Homo sapiens: one gene and its partners. The protein of the gene in region 1 purifies or fractionates together with the protein of each later gene. This does not show direct contact. Each region holds a gene or a part of one and is shown in the gene's direction. Other genes may lie near its edges.

The links.
Region 2: the proteins of GPBAR1 (region 1) and AGPAT5 purify together in Homo sapiens (affinity purification with mass spectrometry; one large-scale study listed by BioGRID and IntAct). This does not show direct contact.
Region 3: the proteins of GPBAR1 (region 1) and ACVR1B purify together in Homo sapiens (affinity purification with mass spectrometry; one large-scale study listed by BioGRID and IntAct). This does not show direct contact.
Region 4: the proteins of GPBAR1 (region 1) and LPGAT1 purify together in Homo sapiens (affinity purification with mass spectrometry; one large-scale study listed by BioGRID and IntAct). This does not show direct contact.
Region 5: the proteins of GPBAR1 (region 1) and AGPAT2 purify together in Homo sapiens (affinity purification with mass spectrometry; one large-scale study listed by BioGRID and IntAct). This does not show direct contact.
Region 6: the proteins of GPBAR1 (region 1) and TM9SF4 purify together in Homo sapiens (affinity purification with mass spectrometry; one large-scale study listed by BioGRID and IntAct). This does not show direct contact.
Region 7: the proteins of GPBAR1 (region 1) and SLC25A40 purify together in Homo sapiens (affinity purification with mass spectrometry; one large-scale study listed by BioGRID and IntAct). This does not show direct contact.

Annotation. Positions count from the first base shown.
Region 1 is NC_000002.12:218,259,606-218,263,814, forward strand, and holds the start of GPBAR1 (G-protein coupled bile acid receptor 1), read left to right. Parts: upstream 1-1,409; 5' UTR 1,410-1,611; intron 1,612-2,453; exon of another isoform or gene 2,454-3,074; 5' UTR 3,075-3,119; coding exon 3,120-4,112; 3' UTR 4,113-4,209. UniProt on the Homo sapiens protein: Receptor for bile acid. Bile acid-binding induces its internalization, activation of extracellular signal-regulated kinase and intracellular cAMP production. May be involved in the suppression of macrophage functions by bile acids.
Region 2 is NC_000008.11:6,729,142-6,732,641, forward strand, and holds part of AGPAT5 (1-acyl-sn-glycerol-3-phosphate acyltransferase epsilon), read left to right. Parts: intron 1-1,569; coding exon 1,570-1,685; intron 1,686-3,419; coding exon 3,420-3,500. UniProt on the Homo sapiens protein: Converts 1-acyl-sn-glycerol-3-phosphate (lysophosphatidic acid or LPA) into 1,2-diacyl-sn-glycerol-3-phosphate (phosphatidic acid or PA) by incorporating an acyl moiety at the sn-2 position of the glycerol backbone.
Region 3 is NC_000012.12:51,989,699-51,993,198, forward strand, and holds part of ACVR1B (activin receptor type-1B isoform a precursor), read left to right. Parts: intron 1-2,164; coding exon 2,165-2,295; intron 2,296-3,500. UniProt on the Homo sapiens protein: Transmembrane serine/threonine kinase activin type-1 receptor forming an activin receptor complex with activin receptor type-2 (ACVR2A or ACVR2B).
Region 4 is NC_000001.11:211,792,764-211,796,263, reverse strand, and holds part of LPGAT1 (acyl-CoA:lysophosphatidylglycerol acyltransferase 1), read left to right. Parts: intron 1-3,073; coding exon 3,074-3,192; intron 3,193-3,500. UniProt on the Homo sapiens protein: Lysophospholipid acyltransferase involved in fatty acyl chain remodeling of glycerophospholipids in the endoplasmic reticulum membrane.
Region 5 is NC_000009.12:136,680,958-136,684,457, reverse strand, and holds part of AGPAT2 (1-acyl-sn-glycerol-3-phosphate acyltransferase beta), read left to right. Parts: intron 1-3,500. UniProt on the Homo sapiens protein: Converts 1-acyl-sn-glycerol-3-phosphate (lysophosphatidic acid or LPA) into 1,2-diacyl-sn-glycerol-3-phosphate (phosphatidic acid or PA) by incorporating an acyl moiety at the sn-2 position of the glycerol backbone.
Region 6 is NC_000020.11:32,112,714-32,116,213, forward strand, and holds part of TM9SF4 (transmembrane 9 superfamily member 4 isoform 1 precursor), read left to right. Parts: intron 1-3,500. UniProt on the Homo sapiens protein: Associates with proteins harboring glycine-rich transmembrane domains and ensures their efficient localization to the cell surface.
Region 7 is NC_000007.14:87,845,361-87,848,860, reverse strand, and holds part of SLC25A40 (mitochondrial glutathione transporter SLC25A40), read left to right. Parts: intron 1-883; coding exon 884-1,008; intron 1,009-1,738; coding exon 1,739-1,912; intron 1,913-3,500. UniProt on the Homo sapiens protein: Probable mitochondrial transporter required for glutathione import into mitochondria. Glutathione, which plays key roles in oxidative metabolism, is produced exclusively in the cytosol and is imported in many organelles.

The DNA of each region.
Region 1 (4,209 bases):
TTTGTCCCAACAGAAGTCCCTGATCTCCAGGATCCCTGACTGGCTGTGCAGAGCTGGCACAGCCACACTCCACGGGCTTCCAGCCCTTCAGGCCCAGCTCTCCCGGAGAGCACCAGAGTCCCTTTGCTCCATTTACTTGCGCTCTTCAGCCAGCAAGTGTTTCCTAATGTCTCACCCCCAGTCCCAGCTTTCCTGCTGCAATTTCCGCCTGTTCCCTCCCATTTCAGGCCTTAAGGGAGTGTGGCTGGGCTTCTCTCCTCCCCCTCACTCCAAAGCCGCACTTGATACAAGGTGGAAATCAAAGCACCACTTCTGGCTTCCCAGCCTTGAACTTGCCCTTCCCTCTCAATGTATCTGGTTTCCTCAGCTTCCCTGTGCAGCAAGAGTGTCACTCCCCTCTTGCTTTTCCCAAGCTCCCCATGCGCCCCTCTCAGCAGATCTGTCTTAGAGGGGCCAGGTGCAGAGAAAGGCAGAAATCCTAATAATGTTCCCAGCGATCGCTGCCTGTCGCGGAGTGCTGAAGGGCCAAGTGTTGATCTGAGTCCTCATCACACGGGACTTCATTTAGTCTCACGATAGGTGAGTACAACTATGGGCCCCATTTGACAGATGAGGAAACTAAGGCAAGGGAACTTTAGTCATTTGCCCAAGTTCACTGGCTTTTTTAAAAAAGGATCCAGACAGCTCTGATTCCAGCGCCAGCTCATGCCTCTTCATCATGGGGGAGGAAAGAGAGGGAGCCATTTGTTGGGGCAAACCCCCACCCATCAAGGGCCATGCACTGGGGTATATGCCGCCATATGTGTTATCCTGTGATATTCCCCACCACGACCTTAATTAGAGGTGGTTTTTCTTGTTCCCATTTTAACACAGGCAAAAACCGAGGCCCAGTAGTACCTTACCCATGGTCACATCCCCAGAGCCATTTGTCCCTCATAGTTCAGAACTTGACTCAGAAAGCAGTTGAGAAAAGTGTGGAATGACCCCAGATTCAGGAAGGCAAGTCTGGCCTTAGAAACTGAAAGGCCCATCAGGTGATGGGATGGGGGAGTGAAGATCCTCAGGCCCCAAACACCTGCCACTGCCACCATCACACACGGAAGTGTGGAGGGAGCCTGGTGTGCTGTCAGCTGGCTGGCCAGTCCAGGGGCTTAAATGTAAATGCATCAGCTGAGGCGGGAAGTCGGGAGGGGTAAGTCAATCATTATTATTCATTAACTGGAATGCATTTCTCAGATTACTCCGAGCTGGAGTAGGGAAACTGCCACCTAGGTGGCAGGGGGAGAGGGGAACTGGGTGGGAGGGGGAGGCAGGCCTCCCAGTTGCTGCAGTTTGGAATATGTCAGGTCCCACCCTCCCAGAGGCGGGGCCAGGGCTGAGTCCTGCCAGCCTCATTTCTCTATCCCTCTGAGAACCCAGACGGGCAGAGCCTGGGTAGGAGAGCCTGGCCCCGCTGTCCCCACTGGGTGGAGACACCATGCACTTGGTCCACTTGTGCTCTTCAGCCAGGACACCAGACATGGTCCAAACCGCTGCAGGGCTGGCTGCAGCAACTCCCTGACACTCAGGAAGGCCCAGGCTGGGCAGGCAATACCTGCTCCCAACAGCCATGTGAGTAGCTACTCCCCCAAACCCCCAAACCCCAGATCCTGGAGAGGCTACTACACCCAGCCCAAGCCACCAGACCCTCGGGGGTGTGCAGGTGGTACAGCCTGCACCCTGCTGGGAAATCACCCCTGGGGGCTGCTCCCTGCCTTTGTCGCTGTTCTAGTGGAGGTGGGTTGGGGGGAATCATTCCGATTAGGGCTGGGAGCTCCAGCTCAGGCCAGGTTTGGGGTAATGGACCCTGAGTCTCACGGGACTTAAGAGAGTTGATGATGCCCTGGGAAAGGGAACAGAAACTGCAAGGCCTCTAGAGAGGAAAAGACATCCTGGGTGGAGGGCACTGGAAGAGATTGAGAAAGAGAAAACATGCTTAGGGGAGGGGAAAGGGGGCATAAGGCCTTGGAGGCCCAGGCTCAGGGTGCTGGGGGAACCTGGGAAGGAAGGGGAGCATCTTCCTTCCTCTCAGCTCAGGGCAGCCATGGGGCCCTGATCCCCTGTCCTGGAGGAGGGGAGAGGTATGAATCCTTTCCTTATTGACTTGGATCCTAGCAACAGCAGCTGCTCCCCTGTTGACAGAAGCAGGAGTTCCCACAGGACCCAGGACCCCTCCCCCTGTCCCCAGGATGTGGCAGCAGAGCCATGACACTGGAGGACTGAGACCAGGGAATGACGGGAAGGACAGGGACAGATGAGAGCCACAGAGAAGCCAGACTCTGCCCAGACTCCTCTTCCCTCTCCTCTGGGCTCAGCCTCAGGCCTGGGGGTGTGGGGGAGTCCCTCTCCTTGCTGCTGGCATCTCCACGTTCACTGCCACACGTGCCCTCCAGCTGCTTCTCTCCTCCCTCCAGCTCCCAGGAAGGACCCTGTTGCTAGTGTGGAGCAAAGACGAGTCAAGTTTATGGGCTGGAAGTCCTACCCGGAGGCTGCTCACTGAGCTGTGATGGCTACAAGGACAGATGGGGGGAAGGGTGCAGGGTGCCCGAGACCTGGCCCGCTGGAGCCTGTCACCTAATGGCTGGCTGGAAGACCACTACACACCAGCCAGCCCTGGTCCATTCTCTCATTTAGAGGCCTCCCCGGTGGAGGCAGGGATACACAAAATGCTTTGGGGCTGGATGGGCCCGCCTTTCAGTCTAAACAAGAGACCTCAACACAGCTGCCCAGAAAAGGCAGATACCAGAAATGGATAAAGCTGGCTGGGTGGGGACTGTCCGAAGGGCAGCCAGCAGTGAGCTCCGGCTGGTTGCTACCACACAGGACATATGTGTTGCCAGACCTGAATTTTCAATAGAAACCAAAGATAGTTTTTTATATAAATGTTTAATTGGCAATTAATTGAAAAATTCTGTGTATCAGCGAACATGATACAGCCCACAGCCTGCGGGTCTGCGCCCCTGGATTAACATGCTGCCCTGCCAGGAGGACACGACCTGCAGCCCCATCCTAACTCTGGCCACCCCATCCTGCAGGCATGCCGGCTGCCGCTCCAGGACTCCCCTGTCCCCAGGACCAAGATGACGCCCAACAGCACTGGCGAGGTGCCCAGCCCCATTCCCAAGGGGGCTTTGGGGCTCTCCCTGGCCCTGGCAAGCCTCATCATCACCGCGAACCTGCTCCTAGCCCTGGGCATCGCCTGGGACCGCCGCCTGCGCAGCCCACCTGCTGGCTGCTTCTTCCTGAGCCTACTGCTGGCTGGGCTGCTCACGGGTCTGGCATTGCCCACATTGCCAGGGCTGTGGAACCAGAGTCGCCGGGGTTACTGGTCCTGCCTCCTCGTCTACTTGGCTCCCAACTTCTCCTTCCTCTCCCTGCTTGCCAACCTCTTGCTGGTGCACGGGGAGCGCTACATGGCAGTCCTGAGGCCACTCCAGCCCCCTGGGAGCATTCGGCTGGCCCTGCTCCTCACCTGGGCTGGTCCCCTGCTCTTTGCCAGTCTGCCCGCTCTGGGGTGGAACCACTGGACCCCTGGTGCCAACTGCAGCTCCCAGGCTATCTTCCCAGCCCCCTACCTGTACCTCGAAGTCTATGGGCTCCTGCTGCCCGCCGTGGGTGCTGCTGCCTTCCTCTCTGTCCGCGTGCTGGCCACTGCCCACCGCCAGCTGCAGGACATCTGCCGGCTGGAGCGGGCAGTGTGCCGCGATGAGCCCTCCGCCCTGGCCCGGGCCCTTACCTGGAGGCAGGCAAGGGCACAGGCTGGAGCCATGCTGCTCTTCGGGCTGTGCTGGGGGCCCTACGTGGCCACACTGCTCCTCTCAGTCCTGGCCTATGAGCAGCGCCCGCCACTGGGGCCTGGGACACTGTTGTCCCTCCTCTCCCTAGGAAGTGCCAGTGCAGCGGCAGTGCCCGTAGCCATGGGGCTGGGCGATCAGCGCTACACAGCCCCCTGGAGGGCAGCCGCCCAAAGGTGCCTGCAGGGGCTGTGGGGAAGAGCCTCCCGGGACAGTCCCGGCCCCAGCATTGCCTACCACCCAAGCAGCCAAAGCAGTGTCGACCTGGACTTGAACTAAAGGAAGGGCCTCTGCTGACTCCTACCAGAGCATCCGTCCAGCTCAGCCATCCAGCCTGTCTCTACCGGGCCCCACTTCTCTGGATCAGAGACCCTGC
Region 2 (3,500 bases), on another chromosome or scaffold:
TAATGGATAAGAGATTTTTCTTGGTTAATTTTTAGTATTAAAATGGCTAAATCTTTTTTGGGATATTCTGACTAGTATGGTGCATTGTCTAATAGATTTCCCATAGCTGAGAGCTAATCATCTTGTAATCTGTGGAAAACTGTCCTCTTTGGCTAAAACTTTATTGTAATTCCTCTAAATCCTCAGCTTTTATTTTCTACAGACTTTTTTTTTTTTTTAACATTTCCTTCCTCTGACTCACTCCTTTTGTTCTCATTTTCATGGCCTGAGAACATGGGTGATGATAGAATTATTCTTTTCACAGATTAACAGTTTTCTTTTCGAGTATCGTTGAGCTCATGTGTGTATTAACTAGAGAAGTCTCCCTTACATTTCATTTTTATGTTTTCTTTCTCATCAGGAGATAGTTTGTAGCCATTTACTTTCAAATCCAAGTTTCTGCGGTTCTTAAGACCTGTATCATTTGTCTCCTGAATTTCACTTCATTTCCTCTTTAAACCATGTCCTCTGTTTCCCATCTTCTGCACCCACTTTGCCACTTCCTGTTTGTTTAATTGGCAAGGGCCACTCTCTGTGTTGGAAATTTTTTCTTTTTGAAAGCTCAACTAACAACTTCTAGGAAGTTTTTTATTGCTACTGTTATCAATTCATACCATCTTACCCTTGTTTTTGCAACCCTTTGTTAATAACATATTTATTTAACTATAGTTATTAGCAGTCTGAGATCATTTTACTTGGTTACATAAGGAGCACATATATCTACCCAGCATCATTGTAAGGCATGTGAGACCTTTGTTTGATTGCTGTCCTAACCTAGTACCGAGTCCTAAAAACTCATTAGTAGAAGATGAAGTGTCCTTGCCTTTTGCTGAACATATATATACACACTGAATATTTAGTGGCAATTCATAGTTGCATTTGGCCATTTTTTGTTTATAATTTCCCCTTTCTCATTAAAAAAACTTTGTTTTCTAGACTTTAGGATTTAGAGAAGCTCATTTTGTTCCATACACATGCTGCTGTTGGATTATTTAGGTATTTTGTGACTGTATTTTATCTTTGAAATAAAAAGCCTTTCAAGAAATGCAAAAAAAAAAAGCTCAAAAAACAGAAAATGTATATTTTTTAAATATCTCAGATAGATTTAAAGAAATTTTAAACATCCTAATCATAGGACTTTTTTTTTTTTTTTTTTTTTTTTTTTTTTGGAGACGGAGTCTCGCTGTCGCCCAGGCTGGAGTGCAGTGGCGCAATCTCGGTTCACTGCAGGCTCCGCCCCCTGGGGTTCACGCCATTCTCCTGCCTCAGCCTCCCGAGTAGCTGGGACTACAGGCGCCCGCCACCTCGCCCGGCTAATTTTTTGTATTTTTAGTAGAGACGGGGTTTCACCGTGTTAGCCAGGATGGTCTCGATCTCCTGACCTCGTGATCCGCCCGCCTCGGCCTCCCAAAGTGCTGGGATTACAGGCGTGAGCCACCGCGCCCGGCCATCATAGTACTTTTGAAGCCCATTCATAGTACAACCTGTGAAGAGCCTCATGTACGCGCTAACTGGGTCCTGTCTCTGCAGTTGACTGGATTGTTGCTGACATCTTGGCCATCAGGCAGAATGCGCTAGGACATGTGCGCTACGTGCTGAAAGAAGGGTTAAAATGGCTGCCATTGTATGGGTGTTACTTTGCTCAGGTAACTTGTTTCCATGCTTTTCTCTCTATATATGTAGTTTATAAATTTTTTTTTTTTTTTTTGGAGACAGTCTCACTTTATTGCTCAGGCTGAGTGCAGTGGTGTGAACACAGCTCACTGCAGCCTTGACCTCTGGGGCTCAAGTGAACCTCCTGCCTCTGCCTCCCAAGTAGTTGGGACCGTAGGTGCCCACCATCATGCCCGGCTAAATTTTCTATTTTTTGTAGAGATGGGGGTCTCGCTGTGTTGCCCAGGCTGGTCTTGGACTCAAGCAATCTGCCTGTCTCAGCCTACCAAAATGCTGGATTATAGGTGTGAACTGCCATACCCAACCCTATAAAAATGTTATATTTTAAAATTTAACAATATACTTCATGTGAATGTATGGTTTTTAAAATGGGTTTAATAGTTTATTCTCAGTTGAAGTAATTTTGTTTGGCATTTTTAGTGGTGTGTATTTATATACGTCTGATTATCCATATGCGGTTTTCCTTCAGCATCTGTGGGGATTGGTTTTAGAACCACCACAGATACCAAAATCTAAGGTGTTCAAGACCCTCATATAGAATGGGATAGTATTTGCATATAACCTGTGCACTACTTTAAATCATCTCTAGATTACTTATAATATCTAATACATTATAAATGCCATGTAAATGGTTGTTATACTTTATTTTTTATTTGTATTATTTTAATTGTTATATTATTTTTAATTTTTATTTGTTCACATATTTTTGATCTGTGATTTGTTGAATCTGCAGATGTGGAACTCATGGATGTGAAGGGCCAGCTGCAGTAAAATGAAAGAGCAAAAATGCAAATGTACAAAGTTCAAACAAATAGGAAATTTAAAGGCATAGAATTTGATAGGCAATTACATTAAACTGTTGATAACAGTAATTAGTGATCTGTATGATATTAAAAAAAAAAAGCAAACTGTATATATAAAACTTACTTTCTCCAGTTCTGGAGGCTAGACATCCAAGATCAAGGTGTTGACAGGGTTAGTTTCTCCCAAGGCCTCTCTCCCAGGCTTGCAGACAGCATCCTTCTTCCTGTGTCCTCAGGTGGTTTTTTTCCCTGTGCCCAAGCACCGCTGGCACTGCTTCCTCTTCTTAGAAGGACTAGTTACACTGGATGACTAATCCTTCTACAGAGACTGCTAAGGTCCCACTCTGAGGCCCTTTTTTAACCTTAATTACCACCTCTAAGTCCCTCTCTCTGAATACAGTCACAGTGGGAACTATTAGGGCTTTAGTAGACTGATTTGGGGGAACACACTTCTGTCCGTAACAGTGCCACATAAATATCTTTAGCAGGATTGATTTTTTAAAATCCCTAAAGATCGTGAGACATGTTAAGGACGCTTTTTAGTGACTCTGTAATAAGTGGGTGGAAGAATTGGGAGTTAAATCCATCTGATGGATCAGGTTTTTTATTTTTAAAAATGTGTATTTAAGAAAGAAAGCATTTTCATTTTAACTGCCAACAAAACTAAACTTCATGTGTTTTCCAATACAGTGTCACATGCAGTTTTTTTGAATTATGTTGAGACAAGGCAATTTTCAGCTAAATGTTCTTTAGAAGCTAATGTTTGAAGATATTAAATATAGATTAAATTCTGAAATGTAGTTTTCATTCTGTACTTTTTGCAAGAGAAGTTGCCTTTTTGATGACTCTGGCCAATTGTTATTTTAAAAGTAAATGCTCTTTCTCCCGATTTGATTGTGGCAGCATGGAGGAATCTATGTAAAGCGCAGTGCCAAATTTAACGAGAAAGAGATGCGAAACAAGTTGCAGAGCTACGTGGACGCA
Region 3 (3,500 bases), on another chromosome or scaffold:
CATTAGGCCGGGCGCGGTGGCTCATGCCTGTAATCTCAGCACTTTTGGAGGCCGAGGTGGGCTGATCACAAGGTCAGGAGTTTGCAACCAGTCTGGCCAACATAGTGAAACCCCGTCTGTACTAAAAATACAAAAAAATTGCCAGGTATGGTAGCGTACGCCTGTAGTCCCAGCTACTTGGGAGGCTGAGGAAGGAGAATCACGTGAACCAAGGAAGTGGAAGTTGCAGCAAGCCGAGATCGTGCCACTGCACTCCAGCCTGGGCAACAGTGGAGACTCCGTCTCAAAAAAGGAAAAAAAAATGAACATTAGGGGTCAGGTGCGGTGGCTCGCACCTGTAATCCCAGCACTTTGGGAGGCTGAGGCGGGCAGATCACCCGAGGTCAGGAGTTCAAGACCAGCTTGGCCAACATGGTGAAACCCCGAATCTACTAAAAATACAAAAATTAGCCGGGCATGGTGGCAGGCACCTGTAATCCCAGCTACTCGGAGGCTGAGGCAGAAGAATCGCTTGTACCCGGCAGGTGGAAGTTGCATTAAGCTGAGATTGCGCCATTGCACTCCAGCCTGGGTGGCAAGAGTGAAACTCACACACACACACACAAATTTAGTGCTTTTTTTTTTTTTTTTTTTTTTGAGACAGAGTCTCACTGTCACCCAGGCTGGAGTGCAGTGGCGTGATCACAGCTCACTGTAGCCTCCACCTCTCCAGGCTCAGGGGAACCTTTCACTCCAGCCTCCTGAGTAGCTTGGGACTACAGGTGCACCACCATGCCCTACTAATTTTTGTATTTTTTGTGGAGACAAGGGTTTTGCCATGTTGCCCAGGCTGGTCTTGAACTCCTGTGTTCAAGCAATCCTTCCACCTCGGCCTCCCAAAGTGCTAGAATTAGAGGTGTGAGCCATTGTGCCTGGCAAACATTAATGTCACTTAACATCTAGTCAGTGTTGAGATTTCCCCAGTCTCCTAAATTTTTAAAGCAGTTTGTTCAAATCGGGGTTCCAATAAGTTTTATCCCCTGCAGTTGATGAATACACCTCCTACATTTCTTGTCTACATGTTCCCCCTCATTTTTTCTTCCCACTCTGTTTTTTCGGAGAATCCAGGTCATTTGTCCTGTAGAATTTCCCAGGCTAGATTTTGCAGATTGCTTAGGTAGAGTTCACATATTCTACTCTTCCTGGTATTTCCTATGAATTGGTAGTTAGATCTGGCAGCTAGAATCATTTCTGGGGGTTCGGGGACACGTATCCTTCACAGGGGTTCCTCTGTCCTTCTGTGACAAGTTGCGTAGCATTGGTTCTCTATTTTTGTGTCGTTAACGTGCCGTGGTGATATTGTCCAAAACTAAGCGAATGATTACTTCCCCTACATATGTATTTGGTTCCCATGATATATAGTTGGAATAGGAGAGGCAGAAAAAATACTTGATTCTTTCCACTTATTTACCATTTTTCAAAATAATGAGGTGGTTCTGTAGCCTCCCACAGAGGTAGGTGACTGAAATTTCCTTTTTTAGACTTTAAAAATATTTGTTTCCATTGAAGTTATTTGTCTTATTGTTACTTAAAAGTTCCCATCTTTGCTCAGTTGGGAGCTTATCAAGTTGGTGCCTTTTGATGTGACCCCCAGTAGTCTTTGATAGATTCCTTGCTTTGGCTATGAAAAAAAATGTTCCTGGCTACTCTTTTGTATTTCTTTTTGTTTAGTTGTTTTGTTTGAGACAGAGTCTTGCACTCTTGTCCAGGCTGGAGTGCAGTGGCATGATCTCTGCTCACTGCAACCTCTGCCTCCAGGGTTCAAGCTATTCTCCTGCCTCAGCCTCCCTAGTAGCTGGGACTACAGGTGTTTGCCACCATGCCTGGTTAATTTTTGTATTTTTAGTAGAGATGGGGTTTTACCGTGTTGGCGGGGCTGGTTTCAAACTACTGATCTCAGGTGATCCGCTTGCCTTGGCCTCCCAAAGTGCTGGGATTACAGGCATGAGCCACCATGCCCGGCCCCTTTTGTGTATTTCTTGTTCCATACTTAGAATTAACTAACTTTCTAAGGAACCTTAGGGGGTAGTGGTATTTACAGAGCACAGTGTAGGTTTTGTCACCGGCTTCTGAGTAATCTTTTCCTGCTGTTGATAACTCAGGTAGATACTTTCTTTTCTCCCAGGAGTCCATGAAGAATATCAGCTGCCATATTACGACTTAGTGCCCTCTGACCCTTCCATTGAGGAAATGCGAAAGGTTGTATGTGATCAGAAGCTGCGTCCCAACATCCCCAACTGGTGGCAGAGTTATGAGGTAAGAAGCTGGCCTCCTGCGGCTTTCCCATCAGCCTGATTTCTCCACCTTAGAAAAGGGTTTCTTGACAATGGGGTCAGGCCCCAGAGGAGCCCCCTGAGAGTGTCAGTTATTATTTACTATTACGTGCTATTTTACATATCCCAAGCCCTTTAGGGCTACAGTCTCTTGTCCTGGACCCTGTAGGGTGCCATTTGGAGTTCACAGCCTAGAAGAAGAAAAGGCTTTGGGCCTGGTGTGGTGGCATAGGCCTGTAATCGTAGCGCTTTGAGAGGCTGAGGCAGGAAGATAGCTTGAGCTCAGAAGTTCGAGACAAACCTGGGCAATGTGGGGAGACCCCATCTCTACAAGAAATAAAAAATTAGGCTTGGTGGCACACCACCTGTAGTCCCAGGTACTTGGGAGGCTGAGGTGGGAGGATTGCTTGAGCCTAGGAGGTCAAGGCTGCAGTGAGCCATGATTGGGCCACTGCGTTTCAGCCTGGGCAACAGAGCAAGACCCTGTCTCATAAAAGAAAAAGGACAAGGCTTTGTCTCCAAGACACAGATGAGGGAGGTGGTCAACAAGTGACAACTGAACCCAGAGCTGTTAGACACCAAACTAGGAAAGCAGCTCTGGAGCCCGAGCTGAGCTGAGCTCCATGGAAGAGTGAGGAGGAGGTGTCCATAAGAGAAGCCCTGAGACCAGACAGAGGAGGAGGACATGCCTGTGAGGAAAGTGGTCTTTCCAGAAACTCAGAAGGGAGGAGGTGATGTGTATGACAGGGCTGGGATTGGGATGGAGAATGTGAATTTGGGAGAGACGGCAGATGAAATCAGGGGTGTGGGGGAAACAACATTTGGTGGAAAGAGTTGACATGAGGACATGTTTGTGACATACGTACTAATAAACATGGAATTCTAGGGTCTTAAGAGTGTTCAGGGGAACAGGCTTCGCCTAGCTAAGTGCTCATGGGCCTCCTTTTCACTTGCGGTTCTGCATTTCCTTTTACTTATTTTTTTCCCAACTCTATCGAGGTGTGATTGACAAATGAAATTGTAACAAAGGTGTACAAAGTGCTGAATTGATACATGTATGTATTGTGACATGATTACCACACAAGTTAGTGAACACATCTGTCACCTCACCTTGTTGCTTGTGTGTGTAGTGAGAGCAGTTGAGACCTACTGTTAGCACATTTCAGGTGTACAGTATTGTTGACTCTA
Region 4 (3,500 bases), on another chromosome or scaffold:
ACATGAATTTTTGGAGTATACTGTTCAACCCAGTACAGAGGGTTCCAAATTCAATTTATGTTTTCATATTTAAACCAGTCACACTTACTAGATTTATCTGATTTATATAAAGCAAACAGGTAAGATATATTTTATGTAAAAACTTATTCTTATTTGCAGTTATATTGACATATATGCCTTCCCACTGCATGGGCCTAGGTATCTAGTATTTTCCACTCATGTAGCACAGATTGCGTTAAAGGACTATTTGGTGATGAGACATCTATTAATACAGATGGAGAGCCAGAAAACTGTCCACATTACCTCTTAATAGCCCACTATTTATAGAACCAAGCTAGACTTTTCTTGAGTTTTAACTGCTGTTCACTTTAGAATAATACTTGAAATGTTCTTACTTATTTTATATCCACAACACCTAACCATGCCTGATGCTGATTTATTGAATGAAGATTGTATTAATGAAAGAATGTTGTGCATGTGTGTGTGTGTTTGTGTGTTTGTATGTCCGTGTGTCTCCATTGGAGGGTTGTCAACAGGGGCATATGGGGAGTTTTCATTTGGTTAGTATATTCTCTGTCCTTTTTAAAAACATAACTAGGCTGGGCGCGGTGGCTCAGGCCTGTAGTCTCAGCACGTTGGGAGGCCGAGGTGGGCGGATCACCTGAGGTTGGGAGTTGAAGACCAGCCTGACCAACATGGAGAAACCCCGTCTCTACTAAAAATACAAGATTAGCCGGGCGTGGTGGCGCATGCCTGTAATCCCAGCTACTTGGGAGGCTGAGGCAGGAGAATCGCTTGAACCTGGGAGTCGGAGGTTGCGGTGAGCTGAGATCACGCCATTGCACTCCAGCCTGGGCAACAAGAGCGAAACTCCGTCTCAAAAACAAAAAAACCAAACAAACAAAAAACACAACTAGTGGCATCCATCATCCTATTCTACACTTTGCTTTTATTACTTAAAGTATATCATTTCATCTTAGTACATAAGTGCTATGTTTGCATAATATTCCATTGCATAGATATAATTTATTTAGGTAGTCTCCCTTAAAAATGTTTTTAATTGTGGTAAAATACGCTAACATAAAATTCACCATCTTAATTTTTCAAGTGTACAGTTCAGTCTTGTTAAGTATATTCACATTGTTGTGGAACCGATATCTAAAACTTTTCCATCTTGTAAAACTGAAACACTGTACTCATTAAACAACAATTTCCCCCTCCCCCAGCCCCTGGCAACCACCATTTCTATGAATTTGAGTTAGCTTCTCTTTCTAGTTGTTTTCATCTTTGCTTTTACAATCAAAGCTGCAGTGAGTAGCCTTGTGTACATGTCATTTTGCACATAAATGAGTATATCTGTAGGATGCATTTCTAGAAGTAGAATTCCTAGGTAAAAAGGTTTGTGCATTTATTAATTTTGAAATATAGTGCAAAATTGGCTTCTAAACAGGTCTCCCTATCCCTATTTCATCCTGAGCTTTTACACACAGGTGGCTTGAATTCTTTCCTTGCAGCAGTGAGTGAGATAAGGTTAGGGTAAAGAATACTAATGTAGAATTGGCCTTTGATAATTCATATCAAAAAATGCTAGAAGATTCTTTGCAGAATTCTGATGTTTGAAAACTGAGGCTTGACATAAATTTACTGTAAAATGAGGTGGCCGAGTGCAGTGGCTCATGTCTGTAATGTCAATACTTTGAGAGGCTGAAGCCGGTGGATTGCTTGAGCCCAGGAGTTTGAGATCAGCCTGGGCAACATGGCAAAACCCTGTGTCTACAAAAAAAATACAAAAGTTAGCTGGACTTGGTGACATGCACCTGTATAGTCCCAGCTACTTGGGAGGCTGAGGTAGGAGGGTCACTGAGCCCAGGGAGCTTGAAGCTGCAGTGAGCCATTGTGATTGCACCATTGCACTCCAGCCAAGGTAACAGAGCAAGATCCTGTCTCAAAAAAGTTAAAAATAAATATAAAATGAAATGAGGCATAACTACATAGAAATACCACTGTTTCCCTTAGAATGTACGTATAGATTTTGGCGCAGTGACTTTTCATCTGATAACTTCAAATAATTTGGCATTTGTATTAGTTTTATTATTTTAAGGTGAAAGTATGCATTATTATGTCTGAATGTTTTCTTATAAAATAGAATCTGAAGGGTTGGGAACCACCTCTCATTGATGATCGGTATTAACAGTTTGAAATTTATTTTTCTAGACGTTTTTCAGTGCATTGAACAACACATGGATGGTATTCCTGCTTTAAAAAGATGGGATCATGCTATATTTACTGTTTTGTGATTTGCTTTGTTAGTTGATAATACATCTTTTTTGGGTTAGTGAATAAGAGATATCCTCCATTATTTTAACGGGTTTATACTCTCCTATTACATCATAATTTTCTTGTCCATTCCCTTGTTGGTGAACATTTAAGTTGTGATAAACATTCTTTATACATATATCTTTGCTTATTTGAACAAGTTTCTGTAGGATAAATTCTAGGAAATAGAACTTCTAGATCAAAGGTATGACCATAGCTGGGCACAGTGGCTCACGCCTGTAATCTCAGCACTTTGGGAGGCCAAGGCAGGTGGATCACTTGAGGTCAAGAGTTTGAGACCAGCCTGGCCAATATGGTGAAACCCCATCTCTACTAAAAATACAAAAATCAGCTGGGCGTGGTGGTGTGCACCTGTAATCCCAGCTACTTGGGAGGCTGAGGCAGGAGAATTGCTTGAACCCGGGAGGTAGAGGTTGCAGTGAGCCAAGATCGCACCACTACACTCCAGCCTGGGTGACAGAGCTAGACTCTGTCTCAAATATAAATAAATAAATAAATAAATAAATAAATAAATAAATAAATAATGATAATTTTATATTTTAATGTATATTTGGGGGCTCTATAAAAGTTATATTAACATTCTGATTTGCACAGGAAATAAACTTAGTTCTAAACTTTCGGATGTTTTAGCTAGGTGACATATCATCATTAATATACATCATTTTTTCTAATATAAGGTTTGTGATAATATAAAAATCTTTAAAATGACAGCTTTGAAACTTTTTTGTTCTTACAGTGATGGAATGGGGAGAAGATATTAAAGCAGTTTCAAAAGATGAAGCAGTGATGTTGGTGAATCATCAGGCAACAGGAGATGTGTGCACACTGATGATGTGCCTCCAGGACAAAGGACTGGTAAGCTACCCTGAAGGCAGTAGATAGACATCCAGAAAGGAAGGTTAAAAAGGAATCCATTTGGCCGGGCATGGTGGCTCATGTCTGTAATCCCAGCACTTTGGGAGGCTGAGGTGGGTGGATCATGAGGTCAAGAGATCGAGGCCATCCAGGACAACAGGGTGAAACCCCATCTCTACTAAAAATACAGAAATTAGCTGGGCGTGGTGGTGTGCACCTGTAGTCCCAGTTACTCGGGAGGCTGAGGCAAGAGAATTGCTTGAACCCGGGAGGCAGAAATTGCAGTGAGCCGAGATCACGCCACTGTA
Region 5 (3,500 bases), on another chromosome or scaffold:
CGTTCCCACCGGGCTTGGGGCTGAGACCACGGACCCCTTCCAGGCAGGGGGTGTCCCCTGAGCCCTTCCCTGTGTGCGCAGTTACGGTGGAGCTGCAGGGGACGTTTCCTCACCAGGGGCCGATGCCCTGGTACATCCATTCGACAGAGGAAAGCAAAGCCCAGAGCGGCTCCGTGTCCTACAGCTGGGTTCAGCTACAGGATCAGAAAACCCTCAAGACAGCAGCTTAATCCACAGAGAAGTTTACTTTTTCATACAGCAAAGGAGACCAGATGGGCAGCCTAGGGAAACAGCAGTTAGTTTCCGGCTCCTTTGACCTCTATTCCCACCATTTTCAGGGTCCCAGACAGAAAAGGGGTGCTCTTCCTCTTAAGGATGCTCCCCGAATTGAACCCCACGCTCTGCTGGTATCTGGAGGCCGGGACCTAGTGGTTGTGGCAGCTCCTGGCTGCAGGGCAGGCTCCTGTCCCCATGGAGCACGTGCCCACACCACACGCCCAGTGTGGGGAGAACGCACAGGGGACTTGGGATGTCGGGCAAGGTTTGACCCAGATTTGCCGGCCAGTGCATGGTCCCGGGTCCTCTGACAGATGTCCGGTGATGACAGATGCCATCGGGGGCCCTGTGTCACCACAGCACTGGGGTCTTAGTCCCAAGGGAGACCGTGACCTTGGTCCTCCAGAGCGCTCCAGGTGTCTCTGTGCAGGCCCAGAAATTGGAGCTGTCCTGACTGAGGGATGGGAGGGCTTCTCTGGCCCCACCTCCTTCCCGCCCGCCACACCTGCACTCCTACACATCCGCTTTGAGGAGTCACGGGGACCCCCCACATCCGGGTGTTTGTGTGGGCTGGACCCCGCACCCCTATGGACCCATCCCGCCTTGTGCTGCAGCTTGGATGACACTTGTCGGAAAACACCAGATTCCTCACTGGGGTCCCTGTCCCCGGTGGCCCCAGCGAGCCCCAGCAGAGGGGGAGGGGGCTGCCCTGAATGAGCTCACGCAGCTGAAGATGGGCAAGTCCTGGCTCAGAGAGCTGCTGGGTCTCCTGGGAGTGTCCCAGCCCAGGACCAAGGCAAGGGTCAGCGAGTGGCCTTCCACGAGGACAGCCTGGCCAGTGGCCTGGGCCCTGACCTAGAACCGCCTCCCAGCTGCCTGAGCCAGGTGCTGGTGGGATTGGGGGCTTAGGCACATTGAGGGGCCTTTTGCTTCGATTTACTTTGGACTTTTTTTTTTATTTTTTGAGACAAGGTCTCGCTCTGTTGCCCAGGTTGGTCTTAAACCCCTGAGCTCAAGTGATCCGTCTGCCTCAGCCTCCCAAAGTGCTGGGGTCACAGGCATGAGCCACCGTGCCCGGCCCCACCCATTTTGGATTCTTCCCCCCCTCCCCCCCACCCCCTAGTCATCCCCATCACAGCCACTGTTGGTGGAGGTCCTGCCCTGGCCCGATGGTGCCCCGGGTGTCTCCGCCTCATAGAATGTAAGCCTGCACACCCTTCCACAAGAGCCTGGGAGGTCAAATGCTTTGCCCGAGGCCATAGCTGGGAAGAAGGGAAATGGGATCCAAATCCCCGTCAGGCCCAGAGCCTGAGTGTGGGAGCAGCCCAGGTGCCTGGGGGCTGAGCTCAGGCGGTCTGAGGAGGCTGGGTTCCTGCAGACCCCAGAGGGGTCTCTTACGGGGCTTCGCTCGAGGCCAGTGGACTCCAGTCTGAGGGCTCCTGAAAAAGACTGAGGCAGCACCTGGGCTTTCCCTCAGCAGGAGCCCACTGCTCCGATGCCACCAGAAGGGCCCAGTCTGGGCTCAGCCTCACTTAGTTTTGGGTGCTGGGCTGCTCCCTGGGCCTCCTGCCTTGCTGGGCAAAGCTGGCACAAGTCACCCGCCTGGCAGTGGCCAGCAGGGCTCCCTGAGCTCCAGGCTTCCGGCAACCTTGGCTTTGCCCCTGCTCCCCGGGGAGGCAAGGAGTCCAGGACCTGGATTTGGGGTCCGTGTGACTGTGTCCTGGTCTGGCACAGCGACACCTGCCCCAGGCTTTGAGGAAAGGACAGGGCAGCCCCTCGTCCGCCTGTGGTTGGTGGGAGGGGAGTTTGAGTGAGGCAGGGTGTTTGGCACAGGACAGGGACTGGGCTGGGCAAGCTGGTGGGGGAAGCCTGGGGACAGTGGCTGCTCTGAGCTTCCTGCTGGGGGAGGCCGGAGCAAGCTCCCAGCCCTGCTGAGGGGTTGAGGGGACTGCGGAGCCCGGGGGAGGGAGGGAGCCTCAGGATGAGCTCCTAGAGTCCTACTGGGGGCCCGCGCCGCCCCAGCACGACTCTGCCAGCTCCGAAGCAGGGTTCCGAGGGGGGCTCAGGCCTGTTCTGGCTTCCCTGCTGTGTGGCCTTGGGGAAGTCACTTAACTTTGCTGAACCTTGAACCTCGCATTCCTCATCTGAAGAGGGGGGTTATGATCGTACCTACCCTGGGGGGTTACTGTCAGAACAAAAGGAGGTGACTCATGTAGAGCCCTTGTCTCGAGGCTTTGCACACAGGAGGTGCAGGGGGCCTCTGTGCTTAGAAGGCGATTTTTCTCTGCTTGGGTTCCCGGGGGTGTCCTCGGCCGCAGGAGCCTCTGCAGGGCTTAGTTCAGTCCCTTCCTCTCTGAGGAAACACTTTTTTTGTGTGTGTGAGATGAAGTCTTGCTCTGTCACCCAGGCTGGAGTACAATGGCACCATCTCGGCTCAACGCAACCTCCTCCTCCCTGGTTCGGGTGATTCTCCCGCCTCAGCCTCCCGAGTAGCTGGGATTACAGGCAGCTGCCACCACGTCTGGCTGATTTTTGTATTGTTAATAGAGACGGGATTTCACCATGGTGGCCAGGCTGGTCTTGAACTCCTGACCTCAGGTGATCTGCCCGCCTTGGCCTCCCAAAGTCCTGGGATTACAGGCGTGAGCCACCCGCCCATCCAGGAACCGCTTGTAAAGTGAGTCTAGACTTTCCCACCAGCTTTCAGAAAGCTCTGAACTATGTACGGGACACCGCGGGGGAAGTGCGGTGGCCTCACGTGGCTGGTGCAGATGGCCCTTTGTCCCCTTGAGGACATCAACTTCAACTTTCTTCCACCCCCAGGGTATACCTTTCTCCCCCAGCCACACTGTGGGCTGCAGAGTTCTAGAGAGCCACAGCCTCCCGCTGGCCTGGGGCAGCCTCCGTCCGTCCATCTGTCTGGCCTGAGGACCAGGGGCCGGTGGTGGGCGGCGGGACACAGCGCCTGCTCAGCACCGCCTGCTGGGCGGGGGTTTGTACCCCGTGTCTTTCACAGCTGAGAGAAGTATCAGTGCACGATCCAACCCCTAAGCAGCTTAGATTAAAAAAAAAAAAAAAAGGAAAAGTTTTGGAGCTAGAGGGTGGTGCTGGCCACACGGCAGTGAATGCGCCGAGTGCCACGGAACCGTGTGCTGAGAAATGGGTACAATTATATTGTTTAGGTGGTGCGTGTTATACCACAATCAAAACAGAGGAGGGCTCGG
Region 6 (3,500 bases), on another chromosome or scaffold:
AAACAAAACACACCACCACCAACAAAACCCTGCAAGTACGGTGATTTAGTGTTTGTTGTGCCACCTGGGAGTGTTGTACTGAAAACAGTAACTGATTTAAAGAAACTGAGTATGTAACATATGCAGTGACCCACAGAGGCCAGTTTAAAGGGTGCATATGGAGAAACTTCATATCTGGTGCAATAGTGAAAAGGTGTGGAAGCAAATTTATTACAGGGGTATGTGATGAAGGGGCAAAGTGGAGTCACAGGCTTGAGTTTGGTCTGTGTCAGCACTTCATTACACGGAAGTCAGAATAGTCCCCACACCCTCATACACACCCTCATTTCATAACCATTGGGGCGAGGGGGTGCGGTAGACCTACTTTGGAGTGTATGGGTCTCTGAGGTGAGTCATACAGCCAAAGAGGAACTGAACTAGTGGATCCAGTGGCCGTGGGAATAGCTGGGTTGCTGGTTTGTCCTTTGTTTTGAAAGTTAGGGTTGTGGGTGCAAGTGCGGTGGCATGTGAGCTTTTCCCTTTCTCTCTTTCCTTGGTGAATGGCTCTTCTTCCCCAAGGGTTGAGCCGCCAGCTCCCAGAACAATGTCAGTATGGAGGGTGTTTCCTGAACCCGCAGGGCAAGACTTCTCCCTCCATAGAAGATAGCTGGTGTAAACTGAAGTTCTCTTTGATTTTCCTGTCTTCTTCCATCCTTAGATTTAGACTACTCTGTAAAGTTACAGGATACAGTGTTGATCTAGCTAGGTCTGAATTGAGATGCGGGCTCATGTCTCACTCTTTATGGAAAACGGTTCTTGGGAATATTATTTCATTGAAACTTGGGAAATGTCCATTGAGTACATTTCTAGATGTGTCAGGAGTCTAGAAACTTCAGTTTGGAGAATAAAACTCTACTTCCCTCACATCATTGTTCATACTGTTTTGGTTTTTATTATAATCTTCTTTATGGATATAATTCATATGCCATAAAATTCACCCCTTTAAAGTATATAATTTAGTGGGTTTTAGTGTTTTTATAGGTTGTGCATACACTAAATGTGATGGTTATCACCATTGTGTAATTCGGAACATTTCATCACCCCAAAAAGAGAGTCACTCCCTACTCTTCCCTCCCCACAGCCCTAGGCAACTACTAATTTACCTTCTGTCCCTATAGATTTGCCTATTCTGGACATTTTATACAAAGATAATTATATAATATGTGATCTTTTGTGTCTGGCTTCTTAGCATAATGTTTTCAAAGTTTGTTTATGTTGTATCATGTATCAGTAGTGCCGCATCCCTTTTTATGGCTGAATCTTCCCTTGTATGGATGTACCACAGCTTGTTTATCACTCATCAGTTGATGGATATTGGGATTGTTTTCACTTTTTGGTTGTTAGGTATAATGCTGCTGTGAACATTCAGGTGTAAGTTCTTGTGTGAACATACATTCAGTTTCCATGGGTGTATGGAAGTGTATTCCTGCATCAGTTCACACTGTTTTGAGGTTACTTGGGTTTGAGCCACTCCAGAAACAGGAATGGAATAAATGACATCAAGATTCCTTTGTGCTAATGGAGCCAATGCCAGTAGTCCCTCCAGCCCCAGTCAAAGGCACAGAAACTGGTTTTGTTTGTTTGTTATTATTATTTGAGACAGGGTCTCACTCTGTCATCCAGGCTGGAGTGCAGTGGCACGATCATAGTTCACTGCAGCCTCCACCTCCCGGGCTCAGGCGATCATCTTGCCTTAGCCTTCTGAGTAGCTGGGACTACAGGCACGCACCACATCCACCTAATTTTTTAATTATATTTTTCTTAGAGACAGGGTCTTGCTATGTTGCCCAGGCTAGCCTTGAACTCCTGGCCTCAAGCAATCCTCCCGTCTTGACCTCCCAAAGTGCTGGGATTACAGGTGTGAGTCACTGTGCCCAGCAAAAACTGTTTTTAATGGTGAAATAGCGTGCTAATCAGGTTGGATGATAGAGTCCTGGAACAGAAGGCCAGAGGCCTGAACTGTGCCATCAGTCTTGTGTGCAGGAAGTTGCTGTCTCCTCTGGACCCCATGTACAGGAGGACATGAGCTGACTGAAGAAGGAACGCTGGAGCAGGAGCCAGCAGCCTGGGCTTGGTCCCAGCGCTGCCACTGATGCATTGTGTGGCCTGGGGCAAATTACTTTGGCTTCATTAGTCTGTTTTCCACATATGTCATGTGTGAAATTAAGGTTTGTACTTGATGATTTCCAAATTCTGAGTTGAAAATTTTGTAGTTTGGAATACTTTAAGGTGAGTTTTGCTAATATGCCTATAAAATCAGACTTATTTTGTTTTTTCCATGATGATGGTCACTGTGATCTTTCCAAGCTGTTGTGTTGGTTGTATTGTCTGTCTGATCACCCAGGTTTCCCCACCTGGCTCATGTTCTGCAGGAGCTACTGTGTCCTTGGAGCTGAGGTGCTGACATCGGGCCTTGGTTAAATGTGTTTCTCTGAGGGGTCCCTTTAAAGGAATGCCCTTAATCCCCCTCAGGAAGTACAGAGGAGGTTGGGATCACATTAAGTTGCCTCTTAGTTTCTGTTTTACAACTTGGACAAACGTCTCCCTTTGATCTTGGCATTAAAGAAGCACGTCAGAGAATGTTGGAGAAGGCTGAGTTTTGATCTCTGGGCACTGGCAAAAAGGTGGGAAGGACCCAGGATGAGAAGAGCCATCTGGCCACGGATGAATAATAGGAGCCACTACCACCTTCAAGCCTGCTTTGATCCCTGAACCATTTGCTGACACTAGAGTTTCCCAAATGGGGCATGGATGGGGACACCCAGGACTTCTCAGTTCCATCTCATTCCTTTTCATTGCTTCCTTCTCTCCCTTCCTAACATGGTTTCTCACCTATGCCTGATGCTTTAAACCAACAGACCTCCCAGGGTTTGAAATCCTCTTATGCTTGGTCTGAGAATCTGGGCTAGACTCCCAGCTCTGACACTGTGATTACTTTTGTGACTTTGGACTGATTGGTTATGTGATTTTGGGAAAACCGTTTGCGCTTTTAAGCCTCAATTACCTTATATTAAAATTTTTTATTGTGGTAATAACAAAACCTACCACTTTAAGCTTTTTTTTTTTTTTTTTTTTTTTTGAGACAGAGTCTCACTCTGTCGCCCAGGGTGGAGTGCAATGGTGCGATCTCAGCTCAGTGCATTACTGCAACCTCTGTCTCCTGGGTTCGAGCGATTCTCCTGCCTCATCTTCCCAAGTAGCTGGGACTACAGGCATGTGCCACCACGCCTGGCTAATTTTTGTATTTTTAGTAAGGATAGGGTTTCGCCATGTTGGCCAGGCTGGTCTCGAACTCCTGACCTTGGGTGATCCACCTGCCTCAGCCTCCCAAAGTGCTGGTATTACAGGCATGAGCCACCATGCCTGGCCCACTTTAAGCATTTTTAAGTGTGCAGTTCAGTGGCATTAAGTACGTTTACACATATGCAGCTGTTAGCACTATCCGTCTCCAGAACTTTTTC
Region 7 (3,500 bases), on another chromosome or scaffold:
AAATTCTCAGCAGCAAAGTCCACCATATAACATTAGGCATTCCAATTTATAGTCTGTGAATGTCCTTTAGTTACATCATAAACATGGACTAGTTTCTTGTTGCACTAATATTTATTGACATGGCAGTACCTGCAACTTTGTGTTTGAATTTAATAATTCCCTTTTAATAATTTCTTTTAAAATAGTATGTCATTAGAATTCCCTTAAAATTAGTGTATGTAATTCTGATGATGTTAATTATAATTTATGTCTAGTTATAAGCAGGAGTGATATATGGTCCACAGTACAAAAATGTTTTACAATTTCTCACGTACTTTTTATTTCGCTGATTCTGATGTTATGGTAATTATGAATGAGAAAGAAGATCTGGGAGACCAGAAACAGAGATGGAGATGAAGTGTCTGTCTTAATTTGTCTTTTCCTATTTGTTTTATTTTTATTTTATTTATTTATTTATTTAGAGACAGTCTTGCTCTGTCCCTAAATAGGCTGGAGTGCAGTGGCACGATCTCGGCTCATTGCAACCTCTGCCTGCCAGGTTCAAGTGATTCTTGTTCCTCAGCTACCTGAGTAGCTGGGATTACAGGCATGTGCCACCATGCTAGCGCTTACTTAATGCTATTTATTGTAACTGTCTTTACAACTGGAATGAAAACTTTTGGATGGCAAATGCCTACTTTATATCTTTTTACTGCCTACTAAGTTAAGTACTAATCATTTTTAAACTAAAAGAAAAATTGATCTCATAGGCTGATTTATTGTAGTTTTTAGCTTACACAAAATATAAGACTTTTTTAGCTTATATAATAATATTTGAATTTAAGTTAAGACTATGTGGGATCTTTTGATAATTTTGAACAAATCTTTTTGTGTGATCTAACAGAGTGATGGCAGTTCCTGCCACAGTTATTTATTTTACCTGCTATGATCAATTAAGTGCTCTTCTGAGATCTAAGTTAGGAGAAAATGAAACCTGCATACCAATTGTTGCTGGAATTGTAGCCAGATGTGAGTAATAAATCTTTATTTTCATTTTGATTTCTGTTTAGAGCTTCTGTTTAAGTTGTGACATTCACAGATAATTTGTATAATATATAGAGTATTAGTATGATATATTTTGCATTATAGTTTATATTAATTTGTTAATATAGTATAGGTACTCCAGAAGTCATATGGAATGGTGATTACCATCAGAATGAGATGGGCTCAGCCTATTTTGGTCAAATCATGGACAGAGTTTTTAGAGTGACATCAGAGTTGGTTCTGATTTACCTGAACTTCTGAGGTGTCATCTGGGATCATGCGTGATTCAGGCCAAAGTCCTGAATCACTTTCCTTATAAACTTTGGGATTCAGAGTTTTATCATAAGGAACGTTGACTCTATACAGAAGAACGTTTACTCTGCTAAATGGGAGTGGGATTTATTGGGGCAGTAACTGGAATGGGCTTTGGTTTTCATAGTTCTGGTTGATTATAACATTTCTGGAACTGCCCTTGAGAGAGTTGAAACCAGAAAAAGTAAAGTATATGAAAATAGATTTTTAAGAAATACTTTGTCAAGGGAAAAATCTGTGGCAATTATGTTGACATCATGACACATTTAATTTTAAGGTTTTCAGACATTATAGACTAAAAGTTTAAAATATAAAATCTGTGAATATTAATTTTTACAGTATATGTGTTTGCATAGTACATGGCTTTATTTTTGTTTTCTTTTTTTTAACTTGTTTGTATTAGTTGGTGCAGTAACTGTGATAAGTCCACTAGAATTGATTAGAACCAAGATGCAGTCCAAGAAGTTTTCTTACGTGGAACTGCATCGATTTGTCAGCAAGAAAGTATCTGAAGATGGTTGGATTTCCCTTTGGAGGGGCTGGGCTCCTACTGTTCTTAGAGATGTACCTTTCTCAGGTAGGATTTATCTTATTTGTAGCTACTAAATTTTACATGGCTTTGTCTCATTCAAATATTACTGTCACTAGATTTTTAACTCTTTACCATTAAAGGTAAGTTATTTTCTATAGTGACCACAAACTCCTTTTTCATTGTTGGGCTCTCAGATCTTTCCAAGCTTTTATTGAATGAATAGTTTTTATTCAAGCTTGTTTTTTTTTCCTTGTGATTAATTTGCTTTTCTACATTAATTAGTGGGTATTCATATTCAGAGAATGCAAACTACCTTTAACATTCTAAATAAGTCATTTAATATTATTCTAAGCAATTAGTAAGATAAGTAAAACTACTGCAAATCAAAGGATAGAATCCATTTAAGACCACTTTGGAATTATATGGGCTCCTACTTTTTCAGTTATTAAAAATAAACATCTCCCCATTAAATGATTATCCTGTAAAAGACTATTACAAATCAAGTAGGGAATTGTACTGATTACTCAGTTATGAAAAGGGAGAAAATTATGAAAAGTGAGAAGTGTAAATCTACCAGTAACTTACAGAATGTGCCTACTTTAGTGGCATTTCCCTTGTGGATCATAGAAGTTTTTAAGACCCAAAAGAAATACTTATCTAGAGAGAAACTCTCAATAAGAATATAAATATCTTTTAAAAATCATGAAACCACAAATACGTTCTTTCACTGTCACAACCCCAGTGGTAACCACTATATTGAATGCCATTCATTTGATTAAAAGAATTAATTTTCCCACATATGTATTATTGCCAAACATTATATTGTTTAGTTTAACCTATTTTTGAAAATCCCCTTTTACTAAAAAATTTTCCTAAGAGTCATTCTTGTGTTATATGTAACTGTTTTCTTCATTTTTACTTGTTTATATGTGAGTAAACAAGTAAGACAGTGCTGCTATGAAAATTTTTAATCAGTTTCTTGGTGTACCTTTGAAAGTTTATCCAGTATTGGATTTGTTGATTCATAGATATACATACATTTCAAATTTTACTAGGTAATATAGAACTCTTTTCCAAAGTGATTGTATGATCTACATACCTACCAGCAATGTAAGAGATTTTCTGCTGCTTCACACCCTTTCCAACTTTTTTATTGTCAAAGGTCTTAATTTTTGTTTAATAATTTAAAGTGGTATCTCATTTTAATTTGCATTTCCCTGGTTATTAATAAGATTGGGCACTGTTTCATTGGCATTCATTTATTCATAATTGATTTGGGGTTTTGGACTGAAATAGGTTTTCAATTTCATTTTTCTCCCACATGGATAGCTGGTTGTCCCAACATCACCTATTGCAGTGATCTCCAACCTTTTGGGCACCAGGGACTGGTTTTGTGGAAGACAATTTTTCCATGATTGGAAAAATTGTGCCTGTGTGTGTGTGTGCATGAGCGCGTGTGTGATTGGTTTCAGAACGAAACTATTCCACCTCAGATCACCAGGCATTAAATTTTCATAAGGACCACGCAACCCAGATCCCTCACATGCGCAGTTAACAATAGAGTTCTATGAGAATATATTGCTACTGCTGATCTGACAGGAGGTGGAGCTCAGGCGGTAATGCTCACTCACCC